Regions from separate parts of the Homo sapiens genome. Here region 2 is linked to region 1. Evidence: fine-mapped QTL for protein levels in blood plasma. A gene starts in region 1. The other region holds a variant in brackets. All regions are shown on one strand. Distances are from middle to middle.

Evidence for each region. A credible set is the group of variants that fine-mapping cannot tell apart. PIP is the chance, under the fine-mapping model, that this variant and not a neighbour inherited with it causes the effect. The UK Biobank Pharma Proteomics Project read protein levels with antibody pairs (Olink). The fine-mapping took linkage between variants from a reference panel, not from the people measured, so its PIPs are less certain.
Region 2: its variant is the best candidate, but not a certain one, in a credible set for the plasma level of the KLK3 protein (UK Biobank, PIP 0.54).

The regions. Positions count from the first base shown.
Region 1 is chr19:50,851,283-50,856,499 of GRCh38, reverse strand. It overlaps KLK3 (kallikrein related peptidase 3), which reads right to left and starts at 1,585. Exons shown (of 5, transcript NM_001648.2): 1 at 1,499-1,585; 2 at 101-260. The coding sequence starts at 1,544. RefSeq lists cis regulatory regions at 1,611-1,674, 1,619-1,743, enhancers at 1,737-1,759, 1,952-1,986 and promoters at 1,574-1,909, 1,574-2,125, 1,548-2,207, 1,574-5,217.
Region 2 is chr19:50,839,848-50,845,064 of GRCh38, reverse strand. All of the region lies in intron 2 of LOC105372441 (a long non-coding RNA gene), which reads right to left. Among named protein-coding and RNA genes, the nearest start is that of KLK15, 8.9 kb to the right of the region's middle. RefSeq lists enhancers at 128-649, 650-1,172 and a silencer at 4,458-4,645. The variant G/C (reference allele first, on the strand shown) is at 2,753.

The DNA of each region.
Region 1 (5,217 bases):
GTCCCAAGGCTGGCCTTAGAGGTTATCCTGGGGAAAATGCCCAGCTGTTATTCCTCTGGGACACAGACACCTGCTCCCCAGACCCCAGGCCCCTACTCACTTCCTGATGCAGTGGGCAGCTGTGAGGACCCACTGGGGGTGCACCAGAACACCGCCGCAGACTGCCCTGCCACGAGAGGCCACAAGCACCTGCCAGGGTTGGGAATGCTTCTCGCACTCCCAGCCTCCCACAATCCGAGACAGGATGAGGGGTGCAGCACCTGCAGAGGGGGTGCTAGATCAGGGGAATCAGGGTTGACAGGAGGAACTGGGGGACTCGGATAGGAGATGGATTTAGGATGTGGGTTTGAAAAGACACGGGGGCAGAGAACCAAGGCTGGGAGTCCTGGGACATGGGCAGGGGGAGCTGGGAAAGGCTGGGAATTCTGTCAATCTTCCCTAGGTTTGCAGGTTGGTGGCTGGTGCTGGTGGAGAGGCTTCATGCTCTGGGAGCAGAGTTGAACCCAGGGATCAGGGTAGGAGACACAAGACAGCGCCCAGACCATATCTTGAGTCTGGGGATTGGGTCCTTTGTGGTGATTTGGGGTCTTGGACTGGGAGAAGGGAAACTTGGTACAAGTTGTGGATTCTGAGGGGATAAGCGGTGCTAGGAACCAGGGATAAGTGCCTTATGGCGAGGTTCAGTTGCTGGAAGAGGAAGGTTTTGGAAAGTTTAGGAAGTCCCAGGTTGAGAAAACAGTTCTGGTCTGAGTTGGTTTTGTTTTATTTGTTTTTCTTTTTGTTTTTAGGTTTTGAAAAGGATGCAGATTTGGGGAATCAGAGAGCTGGCAGTTGTGGCTGGGGATGCTCATGTTTTTCCTAAGGAAAATGTGGGCCACTGAATGAAGAGTCTGGGGCTAAGAGTCAGGGAATGAGGAGTTCTCAGAGTCCCATTGCCAGACTGAGGGACCCATTTGTTGTCTCAGGCCAGATAGCCTGGCTAGGAAGAAGGAGGTGTCTGGTTGGCATCTGGGTATCCTAGGGCAAGATTGGGAGGCCAAGCATCAAGGTCTCTGGGATAGGGTTGGGCACTCACAGCTGAATGGGAAAAGTCAGTAGACTGTGATAGGATTGAGGGGCTCAGGAGGTGGACCAGTGATACGGTCCAAGGAACCAATGGCATTGAGAGAGGTCCTTGGAGGTTTTGAGCCCCACAAAGAGAAACACGGAGATGCCCAGGAACTTCCCCTTTAGTAAAGCAGCTGGGAGCAGGGAGCTGGCTGGGCAATGGGGAGAAAGTTCTGGGGTAAGTGGGAGGGAGCGGGGACCTGGTGTGGGAGTGAGGACTGTTGCAATATGGAGGGGCTGGGGGTATGGGCTTGGAGTGGGGCTGGGAGAGACAGAAAAGAGCCCAGCTCCCTGTCTGGGCTGGGGTGCTGGGTTGGGGGGGAAAGAGCCTCAGCTTGACAGTCAGGGCTGGCTCCCTCTCCTGCATCCCCCCAACCATGGCCCCTCTCACCAATCCACGTCACGGACAGGGTGAGGAAGACAACCGGGACCCACATGGTGACACAGCTCTCCGGGTGCAGGTGGTAAGCTTGGGGCTGGGGAGCCTCCCCCAGGAGCCCTATAAAACCTTCATTCCCCAGGACTCCGCCCCTGCCCTGCTGGCACCCAGAGGCTGACCAAGGCCCTCCCCATGCTGCTGGAGGCTGGACAACCCCCTCCCACACCCAGAGCTGTGGAAGGGGAGGGAGAGCTAGCACTTGCTGTTCTGCAATTACTAGATCACCCTGGATGCACCAGGCCCTGTAGCTCATGGAGACTTCATCTAGGGGACAAAGGCAGAGGAGACACGCCCAGGATGAAACAGAAACAGGGGGTGGGTACGATCCCCGATTCTTCATACAAAGCCTCACGTGCCTAGATCCTTTGCACTCCAAGACCCAGTGTGCCCTAAGACACCAGCACTCAGGAGATTGTGAGACTCCCTGATCCCTGCACCACTCTGAGACCAGAAACTAGAACTTTTATTCCTCATGCTCCTGAAATAGATGTCTTGGCATTTAGTACATTCTTTTCCTTGCACTCCCAACCCAGAATCCAGCTCCACAGATACATTGCTACTGTCATCATAAAAAGATCTTGTGGTCCACAGATCCTCTAGCCCAGAAATATGAGTCTCCCAAAGTTCCCTAGCATTTCAAAATCCAACGTGCAGCAAACAATGTGGAATTCCAATAACCCCCCACTCCTTGTTCTCCAGACCTGTGCACTCTATCTGTGCAACAGAGATGCCTGCTGACCTGCCCTCCCAGGTCAGAATCATCCTCATGCAAAATCCAATGCCCCTTCTCCAACAAAATATTTAGCCTTTAGGAGCCAGGTTTATGTACCTCAAGATTAAACGACAGGTCAGTCATGGTGGCTCACGCCTGTAATCCCAACACTTTCCGAGGCCAAGGTAGGAGGATCACTTGAAGCCAGGAGTTCAAGGCCAACCAGAGAAACAAAGCAAGATCCATCTCTACAAAAAAAAAAAAAAAATTTTTTTTTTTTGAGACAGAGTCTCACTCTGTCACCCAGGCTGGAGTGCAGTGGCGCAATCTCGGCTCATTGCAACCTCTGCCTTCTGGGTTCAAGTGATTCTCCTGCCTCAGCCTCCTCAGTAGCTGGGATTACAGGTGCCGTGTGCCACCACGCCCGGCTAATTTTTCTATTTTTTTTTTTTTTAGTAGAGACAGAGTTTCACCATGTTGGTCAGGCTGGTCTCAAACTCCTGACCTCGTGATCCACCCATCTCAGCCTCCCATGGTGTTGGGATTACAGGCGTGAGCCACTGTGCCCGGCCCCCCAAAAAATTTAAAAATTATCTGGATATGGTGGTGGACTACTGTAGTCTTAGCTATTGGGAGACCGAAGCAGGAGAATCTCTTAAGGCCAGGAGTTCAAGGCTACAGTGAGCTGTGATCACGCCATTGAACTCCAGCCTGGGAAATAGAATGAGACTGAAACCTCGATTTAAAAAAAAAAAAAAAAAGATTAAGGTGGCATGCAAAATCACAATTTGTAGTCTCAGAAGAGAATCGGGAACTCTTAAGAGCCCTGGTACCTCCACTGTTAACTCCGTAAGATTTCATCAATTTCCAAAAAGTTGGTTATTTCAGCTGTTCAATAAAACCAGAGTAGCTCACTTGATCCAGCCCGAGCTGTGTCTCAAGAATTTGACAAAAGTGGCTGGGCGCGGTGGCTGACGCCTGTAATCCCAGCACTTTGGGAGGCTGAGGCAGGTGGATCACCAGGTCAGGAGTTCGAGGCCAGCCTGGCAAACATTGGTGAAACCCCATCTCTACTAAAAATACAAAAATTAGCTGGGCATGGTGCTGCATGCCTGTAATCCCAGCAACTCAGGAGGCTGAGGCAGGAGAATCACTTGAACCTGGGAGGCAGAGGTTGCAGTGAGCCGAGACTGCGCCACTGCACTCCAGCCTGGGCAACAGAGTGAGACTCTGTCTCAAAAAAAAAAAAAAAAAAAAAAAGAATTTGATAAAATCTTCCCCTGTTTCTAGTTGAGTGATCAGGTAAACTCCAAGCACAGTGAGGGAGACAGAGGTGGATATAGATAATCACAATTTAAGACCATCTTAGAGCTGGAGTGGAAGGATATACTTAGCCAGTGGCCTGACCTCCCCTACACGTGAATTAAGGCTTCCCCGGATTCATCCTGGAAAGGAAGTTTGTCTCCACTCCAGTGAGAACCTCATGGATCCGGTGTCCCCAAGCATATCCTCAACTCATCCTCAACCAAAACCTGACCCAACCCAATTTAATACAAACCAATCCAACTGCATTATACACAGCCCCGACCCCATCAACCCAACGCAACTTAACCTAACAAGCCAACCCTTATGTCTTCCCCCATTGTTTGATTCCCCATCAAACAAAACTCATGGCCACTGTCAAATCTGACAGCTACTTCCACGTCTTCTACCTCCAAAATCAAACCCAGCTTCATCCCCAGTTCAATCCCCAAGGATGTCTGAGCCAACATCAAAACAAATCTATTTCCATCCCAAAGCCATGCCATCCCAAACCACCTCCACAGTGTCAATCCCAAACTCATCCGAAGCACAATTTTACCCCATCTCTAACCCAACTCCAATCTGATCCTCCATCCTAACTGGTCTTCATACTCCACTCTCAATCCTATACCCAGCACTTTATCTAACCAAAGAAAACCAAATACAACCACATCCCCGTTCTCAAGCCTGTCCATTGCCTCCTCCCCACCCATGATGATGCTCCCTTGGCTGTGACCTCACAGGAGTCCGTGCCTCCACCCCCTACTCCTGTACACACCATGGTGTTCATCAGGGCCCTGGGTAGTCCCTTTTACAAGATGTGGTGGAGATAAGGCTGATGCTGGCACAGTGCCTCGTATCTGGGAGACTCACTTGGGAGAGCAATAGACTTGGGGAAAACCCATAAGTTCAGGTCCCTGTGCCCTCCACCCAGAAGCCCTTGAGATTTCATGGATGGTGACATATGGCCATTCTCTAGCACTTTTGAGTCCTGGATCCCTATGATTCCAGGCTCCCTGTCTGACACTAGGCCTCAGCCTGGCACCATGCAGGCCACTCCCACCAGAGGAGGATGTCGGCAGCTCTACGGTTGGCAGGTGGCTGGAGAGGCACGCTGCAGGGATAGTCACAGCAACATGACGTCATGGTGCTGGCCACACCCTCAGAGTGTGGATGCTGGATGATGAGTGGATGACACCCAAGGCCTCTGGGGCATCTTTCATGCTCAGATTGTGCTTGCCCAGGGGCACCTTCATGGAGCTAGAAGGGCTGGTGATACCCTCAAGTGGAGTAAGGATTAGGTGGCAAGATGGAAGAATGGGCAACCCTCGATCCTCAGACTCTTGAGGAATCAAGAGATCCCATTACTATCACCCCAAACCCTGGACCTAATGGTTCCAGCCTCTGCCCTTCAGGGGCCAAAGAGCCTTAAGCCACAAATATACCCAGAACTCTACCCCTCAGGATTCCAGCACCTTCTTCCTGAGGATATGAGATTCTTAGGCCATTCCCACATCAGTACCTCGGGAGCTGGGACCTTACCAGTCTCCTCCCTCATTGACCTAAGAGTTCGGAACTGACACTTTCCCTCCCCCAGTTCCTTCACATCCAGCCTCTTCCTCCTTTGAAATTCAAGAGGGTGGACCCACTCCTCACT
Region 2 (5,217 bases), 11 kb after region 1:
ACAGAGCAGCATGTGGAGACTCACGTCTTGAATTTTTGCTCCAAGAACTACTGCAGGAACATACCAGGAAAGCCAAGAGAACCCACAGACCCTTTGAAGGAAGCACATTGCTGCTGCAGGCTCCAGGAGACAGCTGAAAAACTGTGAGTGCTCAAAGTGTGAAAAGTGTGAAGGGGGGATCATCCGCCCCTGCACACACATCCTCACTGGGGAATCTGAAGGTCCAGATCATGGGAGAAGGATTTGACCTTACCTGGAGCCGAGATGAACTTAGAGAGCTGAATGAAATACGGGGGGTAGAGAAAGCAGCAGGAAGAGCCCTGAGGGTACTGTTGGTCCCCAGGGAAGCCATTTCTGACTTCATCTCACAGGGGTCCTTGGGGAGGGCTGCCAACGGAATTGGGGAAAGACTACAGGGAGAAGGAAGCTTCCAGCTGAACTTTGCAACAATTTCAACTGAACACGAAGTTTCCTGGACAGAACTCAGGGGAGGGGGTGAACTGTGAGTGCAGACATGAGCACAGAAGCTGCAGCAGGTGGGGAGGCACGAAACCTGAAAGCCCTGCTTGCTTTCTCAGCAGGGAGGCTTGTAGCCTGGGGCGAGTTCCCAGCCCTGCGCACCTGCTGCCTGCAAACAAACTGTGCATTGATTGGGGATGCACACAGTGGGAATGAGACCAGCTTTTTGGGCTGCATGGGAGCTGGGTGAGCCCTGAAACTGCTGGCTTTCTCCCACTTCCCTGGTGACCCACATGATGCAGTAGAGGCAGCCATAATTCCCCTGGGAACATAACCTCATTGGCCTGAGAACCACACCCCACCCCCACACAGCAGCCACAGCGACCCTTACCCAAGGAGAGTCTGAACTCAGACACCCCTAACCCTGCCCCCACCTGATGGTGTTCCTCTACCTGCCCTAGTAGCCAAAGACGAAGGACATACTCTCTTGGAAGCTATCTGGCCCCATCCTCCACCTGAGAAACCTGAATACTTATCCAGGTAACCCTAGGGCAAGCTGTTTTCCTCCCTGTACTACTGCAGCTGATGCTGTCTTGAAAGTGCCGTCTCCTGGCTGGAGGCCAACCAACACAAAACCAGCGCACTAAAAAATAATACAACCAAGGAACCCCAGCGAGTCTACTTTACTCCTCTGTTACCTCCAACGGAGCAGGTGCTGATATCCACAGCTAAGAGACCTGAAGATGAATCACATCACAGGACTCTTTGCAGACACCCCCCAGTACCAGCCCAGAGCGCAGACGCTCCACTGGGTAGCTAAATCCAGAATCTGAGCAGCCCTTGAGACCCAGATCTTCCTTCTGACATAGTCTACAAAGGAGAAGGAACCAGAAAACCAATTCTGGTAATACGACAAAACAAGGTTATTTAACACGCCAAAAAGATCACACCAGCTCACCAACAATGGATCCAAACCAAAAAGAAATCTCTGAAATTGCCAGAAAAAAAAAAAATCAGAAGATCAATTACTAAGCTACTCAAGAAGGCACCAGAGAAAGGTGAATACCAACTTAAAGAAATTTTAAAAAGTGTTACCGGATATGGACAGAAAAATCTCCAGAGAAATAGCGTAAATCAAAAACAATTACAATTTCTGGAAATGAAGGACACACTTAGAGAAATGCAAAATACACTGGAAAGTCTCAGCAATAGAATCAAACAAGTAGAAGAAAGAACTTAAGAGCCCAAAGACAAGACTTTTGGATTAACCCAATCCAACAAAGACAAAGAAAAAAGTATTTTTAAAAAATGAACAAGACCTCCAAGAAGTTTGGGATTATGTTAAACAACCAACCTAAGAATAATTCATGTTCCCAAGGAAGAAGATAAATCTAAAAGTTTGGAAAACATATTTGAGGGGAATAATCTTCCTTGGCCTTGCTAGAGATCTAGATATCCAAACATGAGAAGCTCAAAGAACGCCTGGGAAATTCATTGCAAAAAGATGACCACTGGTCGGGCGTAGTCGTTCACGCCTGTAATCCCAGAACTTTAAGAGACTTAGGCAGGCCAATCACAAGGTCAGGAGATCGAGGCCATCCTGGCTAACACAGTGAAACCCCTTCTCTACTAAAAATATAAAAAAGTAGCCGGGTGTGGTGGCACGCACCTGTAATCCCAGCTACTCGGGAGGCTGAGGCGGAAGAGTCTCTTGAACCCGGGAGGCGGACGTTGCAGTGAGCCGAAATCGCACCACTGCACTCCAGCCTGGGCAACAGAGTGAGACTCCATCTCAAAACAAAACAAAACAAAAAAAAGATGACCCCCCTAGGCACATAGTCATCAGGTTATCTAAAGTCAAGATGAAGGAGCATCAGGTAACCTATAAAGGAAAACCTATTAGATTGACAGCAGATTTCTCAGCAAAAACCCTACAACCTAGAAGGGATTGTGGTCCTGTCTTTAGCCTCCTTATACAAAACAATTATCAGCCAAGAATTTTGTATCCAGTGAAACTATTGGCAGAACACACAACAACTCCGGGTCAGAGACAAAGGACTTTATTACTCATGGCACAGCCGGCAGCATGAGATTCATGTTCACATGGGCTCACCTTGCCCCCCAGGTCCTACAGGGATGATCAGAGTGGCTCAGGCAGATGCTGCGCACACAGTGGTTTGCGTCAATGCTGGGGAACCTCTGTTTACATGTATTTACAAATCTTCAATCTTATAAGGGAGATGCAAGGAAATCTGCTTGACTTTGAAACTCGGAGAGATATTATCTTTGTTAT[G/C]TCGGACTGCTGATCCACCTGCCCCGGAAGGACATGTTGTATTTACTATCCTAGCCAATAAATAAATCATTATGGAAGGACATTATCTTTATTATCTAAGACAGTGAACAAACATGCTCTGATGCTCTAGAGAAACATCCATAAAAAGACAATCTGGAACTCAAAAGTGGCTAATACCTTTTTCAGGAGACAGGCAGAAAGGTAAGAGAGCCATGGATAATTGTCTCCTAACACCATTCAGTTCATGCTCTCGATGCTTCCCTACAGGATAATCTCAGGCTTCCCAACCAGGCATTCAAAGTGCAGGCATTTGGTCTGGGATACAAAACCCAGCCTCAGTTTACCTGGTTTTTTTGTTTGCTTGTTTGTTTGTTTTTGAGACAGAGTCTCACTCTGTCACCCAGGCTGGAGTACAGTGGTGCGATCTCGGCTCACTGCAACCTCCACCCCACCATGGGTTCAAGCGATTCTCCTGCCTCAGCCTCTTGAGTAGCTGGGATTACAGACACACACCACCACACCTGGCTAATTTTTGTATTTTTAGTAGAGACAATGTTGGCTAGGCTGGTCTCAAACTCCTGACCTCAAATGATCCGCCCGCCTCAGCCTCCCAAAGTGCTGGGATTACCGGCGTGAGCCACCACGCCTGACTTGATCCTGTCTTTCTCATGCTATCTTCTCACTCCCCGTTTCTCACGGTTTTCTGCCTTCACCATTCCCTCCCTCTTTTGATGCCTCTTCCTCACTCCAGTCCTTACTTTATCTCTTCTACACTCCCCGACTCCACCCTCCTTTGTTTTTGCCCGGTCCCTATTTCTGCAGGCTTCTCTTTCCAGCTCCCCGTGTCTCCTTCTCTAGACAGGAAGCACCCATCTAAAAAGGTGAATGCTCCTGCAGTGAACAATCATCTCCAGGCCCACCTGGCCAAGGCTAGAGCATCCCCCAGCCCTCCTGACCTGCGTCCTGAGGTGTGGAGTCAGGTGCAGGGGAGAAAGGAAGCTTCAGTGACAGGTATAGCCCAGTGGTTCCCCAATGGGGCAAAGTTGTCCCCTCCACCCGCCCCACCCTCCTCCACCCATCCAGGGGCACACTGGCATTTTCTGGCAATCTCATCACATTCAGGTTCTGCAAAGACACACATCGGGGGGGTTGCCACTTTATTTGTGGGGTGCAGAGATGGAGGAAGAGAGAGGAGAGAGGGTCTGCCCTGAGATAGTAGACAGTGACAGGTGGTAATGCTCTCCACGGACCACTGAGAGGGACCTGGGGACGCAACGCGCCACACACACAGCAAGGGTGGAGCTGAAACCTGGCAAGAGCCACATTATTCTTTTTTTGCTAATTTGTAATTGTTGTGGGTACATAGCAGGTGGATATATTTATGGGGTACATGAGATATTTTAATATAGGCATATAATGTGTAATAATCACATGAGGGTAAATGGGGTATCCATTACCTCAAGCATTCACCCTTTGTGTTACAAACAATCTAATTATATTCTTTTTGTTGTTTTTAAATGTACAATTAAATTATTATTGACCACAGTCACCCTGTTGTGCTATCGAATACTAGATCTTATTCTATTTCCTCGTACCCATTAACCATCCGCACTTCCCCACTACCCACATACCCTCACCCTCCCCAGCCTCTGATAACTATGCTTCTACTGTCTATCTCCATTAACTCAGTTGGTTTTGTTTTTGTTTTTTGTCCCTATTTCTCCAGGCTTCTGGAGATGGAGTCTCGCTCTGTCTCCCAGGTCGCTGGAGTGCACTGGAGAGGTCTTGGCTCACCACAACCCCCTCCTCCCAGGTTCAAGCACTTCTGTGTCTCAGCCTTCCAAGTAGCTGGGAATACAGGCACGCGCCACTGCGCCTGGCTAATTCTTGTATTTTTAGTGGAGACAGGGTTTCACCATGTTGGCCAGGCTGGTCTTGAACTCCTTACCTCAGGTGATCCACCTGCTTCAGCCTCCCAAAGTGCTGGGATTACAGGTGTGAGTGCCCGGCTAATTGTTTCAATTTTTAGCTCCCAAAAATAAATGAGAACCTGTGAAGTTTATCTTCTGTGCCTGACTTATTGCACTTAACATCATAACCTCCAGTTCCATCCATGTTGCAAATGACAGGCTCTCATTCTTTCTGATGGCTGAATAGTGTTCCACTGTGTATATGTACCACATTTTCTGTATCCATTCATTTGTTGATGGACACTTAGGTTGTCTCTAAATCTTAGCTATTGGGAATAGTGCTGCAATAAACATCATTCTTGGCAATACCACAGCCAGCTTTCCTGCACTGGGAGGTGGGGTGTTCCATGATGACTTTTTACAATCTCAGCCTGGGCAACATATCAAGACCCCATCTCCACAAAAAAAAAAACAAAACGTAAAAATTAGCCAGGTATGGTGGCACACACTTGTAGTCCCAGCTACTCGGGAGGCTGATACCAGAGGATCGCTTAA